Linked DNA regions of Homo sapiens. The protein of the gene in region 1 interacts with the protein of each later gene in a pairwise test. Each region holds a gene or a part of one and is shown in the gene's direction. Other genes may lie near its edges.

The links. Proteins that work in one complex are often made in the same cells at the same time.
Region 2: the proteins of ASB13 (region 1) and TARDBP interact in binary tests that used the Homo sapiens proteins (3 or more experiments, as listed by UniProt).

The regions. Positions count from the first base shown.
Region 1 is NC_000010.11:5,660,096-5,663,595, reverse strand, and holds part of ASB13 (ankyrin repeat and SOCS box protein 13), read left to right. Parts: intron 1-3,500. UniProt on the Homo sapiens protein: May be a substrate-recognition component of a SCF-like ECS (Elongin-Cullin-SOCS-box protein) E3 ubiquitin-protein ligase complex which mediates the ubiquitination and subsequent proteasomal degradation of target proteins.
Region 2 is NC_000001.11:11,019,154-11,022,653, forward strand, and holds part of TARDBP (TAR DNA-binding protein 43), read left to right. Parts: intron 1-1,275; coding exon 1,276-1,446; intron 1,447-2,970; coding exon 2,971-3,500. UniProt on the Homo sapiens protein: RNA-binding protein that is involved in various steps of RNA biogenesis and processing.

The DNA.
Region 1 (3,500 bases):
TGAAAAGCGTCCCTCAGGTCCCTTAACTGAGACAGGGAGGATGCAGGATCAGAGCTCAGGGGTCCTGAGTCAGGGCCTGAGCTCCCACAGTGCCTTGAGGGTGGGACTGGGGGACCCTCCCCATGCTCCCTGGGCCATAGCCTTTGGGGTGGACCAGGGGCAAGGGAGGAGTCGGGGTAGCAGATAATTGGGTGAGTGATGAGGGAGTCAGGGGAGGAGACATTGAAGGATAATGCAGCGAATCCAGTGTGGTTTTAGCGTCCTGCAGGTGGAAGGAAATGCCTGTTATTCACCAAGCTCTCCTGACACCTTCGGTCCTTTCTCCCAGTTCCTTTACTCCTTAGCCCACCTATTTTCACCTCTTTTCTCCTTGTCTTCTGCTTTCATTTATTCTTTCCCTTTCTTTTCTCCACTCTTACTGAGTTTTGACCATTTTGTCCCTCTAAGAAGGCAAATACTGGCATTTTTGCTTCATTGAACACATCTTAAAATCAGTCTGCTGTTTGACCTCAAGTTTACCGACAAACTATATTTTGGGGATTCATAATGAAAACATTTAAAAAGACATGGTTGAAAAATATCACTGTAGCAACAAAACACTGAGCCCAGACTTGTAAGTGGGAGTTTCTACATAGAAAAATAAAGATCCATATTTTTTTTCCTTGGGTTTCAAGGACACTAAAACTGAAATTTGAGCTGCGCTATTAAAATTTGGTGATAGTGGTTAAGTGCCATGCGTTAGGCACCCTCTTTGTGCTGGGGTTGTCACGTACACTGTCTTTAGTTGTCACCATGAGATCCTTCATTTATCTTTTCCTCTGTGGTCTCTTTGTCTTTGTGGATTTAGCCCCCATTTTATTCCCTTACCGTCACTTGTGTGTGGTTTGGACAGCAGGCAGAGATGAATGGATGCTACATTTGGCTTTTTCTGGGAGTGTTAATCATCCAGGATCTCATCTCTTCTCTTCTCTTCTCTTCTCTTCTCTTCTCTTCTCTTCTCTTCTCTTCTCTTCTCTTCTCTTCTCTTCTCCCCTCCCCTCCCCTCCCCTCCCCTCCCCCCCCCTTCTCGACAGAGTCTCAGTCTGTCGCCCAGGCTGGAGTGCAGTGGCACGATCTCAGCTCACTGCAGTCTCCACTGCTTGGTTCAAGCGATTCTCCTGTCTCAGCCTCCTGAGTAGCTGGGATTATTACTGGGATTACAGGTGCATGCCACCACACCCAGCTAATTTTTGTATTTTTAGTAGAGATGGGGTTTTGCCATGTTGGCCAGGCTGATCTCGAACTCTTGACCTCAGGTGATCCGCCTGCCTCAGCCTCCCGAAGTGCTGGGATTACAGGCGTGAGCCACTGCGCCCAGCCCATCGTCCAGCATTTCTAAGGCCTTTTCAGTTCTGACAGTCAGCGCGTGTTCATGAATCCTTAGCTTTCTGGGACCCTGGGGGGCTATGTCACTCAGGACTCTTGACTTTTCCCTGAGAGCTGAGGATGAGCCCATTGAGAGCAGCATCAGAAAACCCTCCCTGGGGGCTTCCGGTGCCTGCCTTGGTTCTTCCAGGGTGGGTTCCCCAAGTGTGTGCTCGCCCGCCCCAGCCCGGCTTTATGGGTGGGTCAGGGTGGAGGGCCCACCCTCACCATTTCAAGAATGCTTACTGGGGTTTTGCAGGGAGGGCTTCTTACAGAGGCTGCTGGTTGTTTTTGACGCAGAAATGACATTTCTGCAGCCAGGACCCCAGACTCCCCTTGGTGATTTACTCGGAACAAAATTTCTGACTCCAGCAACATTTAAGAGTGCATTCTGGGCTGGGCCTGGGGCTCATGCCTGTAATCCCAGCACTTAGGGAGGCCAAGGCGGGAGGATCACTTGAACCCAGGAGTTTGAGACCAGCCTGGGCAACATGGTGAAACCCTGTCTCTACAGAAAATACAAAAATTATCCAGTGTGGTGGTGGTGCATGGGCCTGTAGTCCCAGCTACTTGGGAGGCTGAGGTGGGAGGATCACTTGAACCTAGGAGGTTGAGGCTGCAGTGAGCCCTGATCACACCACTGCACTTCAGCTTGGGTGACAGCGAGACCCTGTTTCAAAAATAAATAAATAAACAATAAGAAAACAAAATAGGAAAAAAGGTGCATCTTGGGTATTTGACCTGGATTCAAAGCCAGCATGCTACTGGATCAGCTTTGTCTGGAAGGTGTCCCTGGTGGCATTTGAGAATGCTCTTTGTTGGAGTGGGCCCTGACCCTGGAGAGGCCCCAGGCTCGGCGGGGCGGGGTTGGGGGCAAGTGGCTCTGCTGCTTTTATGGTTGCAGTCCCTGTGTGGGTCAAGTGAGGCCCGCCAGTGTGGGTGCAGGCAGGGCAGTGTGGAGGATGGGCTCTGGAGGTGCCCAGCTCTGCAGTGTGCAGGGGCCAGCAGGCCAGCTGCCTCCTAGACACAGGCTCTCTAGGGGGTGGCCGGGCCTGGGCACAGAGCTGCCACTTGGGCCCAACGAGTGGGGCTCTGGCTCTGGGATGACTGAGGAGATACTGGCAAACCAGCTGCCTAGGGGGAAAATAAAGAAAAAGAAACAAAAATAAAAGTCTGCTTTGCTGCTTTCCCTGGTCTAAATACTCACATCCTGGCTGCTTTCAAGCTGCTGGTGGTCTCCGGCCAGCAGAACCTGGCTGTGCAGCAGCCAGCTGGCGAGATGGCCCGGCACACTGCTGGGTGGCTTGCAAGGCAGGGAGCGATGGAGGGGCTCTGGTCTCAGAGGGCCCGGGAACTGAGCAGAAAAATTGGGCAGAGACTCAATCAGTCACCCGACTTAGGTAAGGATTGAGTTACTGGAGCTGGAATGCAAGATTGGGGGGCTTGCTATGGAACAAAGATGAGATGGTAGAACCCGCACCTGCCCTCCCCACAGGACTGGTAGGGTAATAATGACAGCAATGATCCTGGAGCCATGGCAGTGCCTGTTACTCACAGCATTTACAGGTGGCCAGGCACGATTTTCTTCAGTCTTCACAGCACCCATTTGAGGAGAGAGGAGGCCGAGGTTTGGAGAGGGTAAGCTGTGAGACGAGCTTTGAACTCACGAGCAGGGTGGTTCCTGCAGCTTGCCCCTGTAGAGTCTGCTCCCTGAGGGTAGGCTGACCCTGAGCCACTTGACCTGTTCAGCCAGGGCTTCCTAATCTCAAAGGACAGGTCAGTCCTGGGGCAGGGCACAGCCTTAGATGGGAGGGTGTCGGGGCCCCAGCAAAGGGGCAAGAGAGGGGAAGAGGAGCTGGGGTCCAGAAAGGTCCACACCTGGCACACGGTCCTAGCCAGTAAGGTCGTATCGTGGGTGGAAGAGTGGAGAGAACGTTCTGAAGCACGTGTCATTCCTTCTCAAGGTGACGTCTGCCGTAGTCTGCAGTAGATACATAGGTGACATCTGTGAAACTCTAGTTTTCAGGGCAAAGGCTTTTGCTTGGCTATTCATGAGCTCAGGCCTGCAGGCGGCAGGTAAACAGGAGGAGCCATAG
Region 2 (3,500 bases), on another chromosome or scaffold:
CATAGTTATATGTTAAAACATAAAGAGAATCAGAATACATACATTAATTGTTATAAAGACCTAACTTTTTCCAAGCAAACAAATAACATTGGCTTATTTGGAACATCATCATCTTTGCCAAGAGATTGCTTATTTATTAATTTTCTCAAATCCAAACACAGTCATGTATCACATGGCAAAGTTGATCAGTCAGCAGCAGACCTCGTGTACAGCAGTGGTCCCATAGGATTATAACACTGTTTTTACTGTACCCTTTCTATGTTTAGATACACAAATACTTACCATCATGTTATAGTCGCCTACAGTGTTGAGTACAGTAACTTGAAAGTTTGTGGCCTGGGAGCAATAGGCTATACCATCTAGCCTAGATGTGGGGTAGGCTATGCTATCTGGGTTTATATGATGTTTGCACAACGACTTTTTTTTTTTGAGAGAGAGAGTCTCACTCTGTCATCCGGGCTGGAGTGCAGTGGTGCAATCTCAGCTCACTGCAAGCTCTGCCTCCCGGGTTCACGTCGTTCTCCTGCCTCAGCCTGCCGAGTAGCTGGGACTACAGGTGCCCACCAACACGCCTGGCTAATTTTTTGTATTTTTAGTAGAGATGGGGTTTCACCGTGTTAGCCAGGATGGTCTTGATCTCCTGACTTCATGATCCGCCCATCTCGGGCTCCCAAAGTGCTGGGATTACAGGTGTGAGCCACCGCACCTGGCCCTTTTTTTTTTTTTTTGAGATGGAGTTTCACTCTTATTGCTCAGGCTGGAGTGCAATGGTGCAATCTTGGCTCACTGCAACCTCCTCTTCCGGGTTCAAGTGATTCTCCTACCTCAGCCTCCCAAGATGCTGGGATTACAGGTGCCTGCCACCACACCCGGCTGATTTTTGTATTAGTAGAGGTGGGGTTTCACCATGTTGACCAGGCTGGTTTGAACTCCTGACCTCAAGTGATCCACCCGCCTCGGCCTCTCAAAGTGCTGGGATTACAGGTGTCAGCCACCACACCTGGCCACGATGATGAAATTGTGTAATGGCTCATGATGTATTTATATCCATCATTATGTGATGCATGACTGTGTACTTTTGTAACTTAAAACGTTACTCTTCACTGAAGCCTTACAAGAAAAAGAAATGCTGATGGAAAAAATTAAGGGTACGTCTACTTTTTAATGGTTCACTGCTATCCAAGGCGAATGATTTTGTTATATCCCTTACCTTAATGTTTTTTTCATTGTTCATAACATATTTCTGAGTTTTTTTCTTCCTTTTGATTTGATCAGCAAAGCCAAGATGAGCCTTTGAGAAGCAGAAAAGTGTTTGTGGGGCGCTGTACAGAGGACATGACTGAGGATGAGCTGCGGGAGTTCTTCTCTCAGTACGGGGATGTGATGGATGTCTTCATCCCCAAGCCATTCAGGGCCTTTGCCTTTGTTACATTTGCAGATGATCAGGTATTTTTCTCCTTAACGATATGTCCCGGCCGGGCGTGGTGGCTCATGCTTACAATCCCAGCACTTTGGAGGCCGAGGCGGGTGGATCACGAGGTCAGGAGATCAAGACCATCCTGGCCAACATGGTGAAACCCCGTCTCTATTAAAATACAAAAAAAAAAAAAAATAGCTCGGTGTGGTGGTGCACGCCTGTGGTCCCAGCTACTCTGGAGCCTGAGGCAGGGGAATCGCTTGAACCCAGGAGGCGGAGGTGGCAGTGAACTGAGATCACACCACTGCATTCCAGCCCAGTGACAGAGTGAGACTCTGTCTCAAAAAAAAAAATATGTCCCAGGTAATTAGGTAATTTCTCTTGAACATTGCCCATGCAGCTAATTGCTATTCTTAGCTAAGTTTTCTGACCTTGTAAGACGTAGGGTGTATGGGCCTAGATGTTTGTGATACCTGTATCTGATATCACAAATACAACATTTTAAGAAATCTAAAAGTAAATATGCCTTTAGATAATTTTCAGTATGTGGCATTTGGGAATGTTATATACTTTTTTTTTTTTTTTGAGACAGAGTTTTGCTCTTGTTGCCCGGGCTGGAGTGTGATGGCGCGATCTTGGCTCGCTGCATCCTCCACCTCATGGGTTCAAGCGATTGTCTTGGCTCAGCCTCCTGAGTAGCTGGGATTACAGGTGCCTGCCACCACGCCTGGCTGATTTTTTTGTGCTTTTAGTAGAGACAGGGTTTCACCATGTTGGCCAGGCTGGTCTCGAACTCCTGACCTCAGGTGATCTGCCCATCTCAGCCTCCCAAAGTGCTGGGATTACAGGCATGAGCCACCACGCCTGGCCAGTTTTTTGTATCTTTAGTAGATAACGGGGTTTCACTGTTTTGATCTGGCTGGTCTTGAACTCCTGACCTCAGGTGATCCACCCCCCTCAGCCTCCCAAAGTGCTGGGATTACAGGCGTGAGCCACTGCTCCTGCTCCCGGCCCATTTTTTAAATTATTATTTTGAGACAGGGTCTCACTCTGTTGCCCAGGCTGGTGGAACACAGTGGTGTAATCATAGCTCACTACACCCTAGAACTCCTGGGCTCAGCCTCCAGGGGGAGGATCCTCCAGCTTCAGCCTCCCAAGTAGCTAGGACAGATGCATGCCACTACGCCCAGCTAATGTGGCTTTTTTGTGGTTTTTTTTGATAGAGGTGGGGTCTCCCTGTGTTGTCTAGGCTGCCAGGCTAGTCTTGAACTATTGGCCTCACACAGTCCTCCCACCTTGGCCTCCCAAAGCGCTAGGATTACAGGCATGAGCCACCATGCCCAGCCTATGTCTTTTGAAAATCGACTGAAATATCACTGCTGCTGTTAATAAAACTAAAAGCTGTATTGGGGGTTTAAATGAAATGAGTGTTCATTGCTTATTTTTCCTCTGGCTTTAGATAAATTAATGCTTGTAATCTAAGTTTTGTTGCTACTTTAAATATATGAATCAGTGGTTTAATCTTCTTTGTTTACATCCCTTATTTCTTATAGATTGCGCAGTCTCTTTGTGGAGAGGACTTGATCATTAAAGGAATCAGCGTTCATATATCCAATGCCGAACCTAAGCACAATAGCAATAGACAGTTAGAAAGAAGTGGAAGATTTGGTGGTAATCCAGGTGGCTTTGGGAATCAGGGTGGATTTGGTAATAGCAGAGGGGGTGGAGCTGGTTTGGGAAACAATCAAGGTAGTAATATGGGTGGTGGGATGAACTTTGGTGCGTTCAGCATTAATCCAGCCATGATGGCTGCCGCCCAGGCAGCACTACAGAGCAGTTGGGGTATGATGGGCATGTTAGCCAGCCAGCAGAACCAGTCAGGCCCATCGGGTAATAACCAAAACCAAGGCAACATGCAGAGGGAGCCAAACCAGGCCTTCGGTTCTGGAAATAACTCTTATAGTGGCTCTAATTCTGGTGCAGCAATTGGTTGGGGATCAGCATCCAATGCAGGGTCGGGCAGTGGTTTTAATGGAGGCTTTGGCTCAAGCATGGATTCTAAGTCTTCTGGCTGGGGAATGTA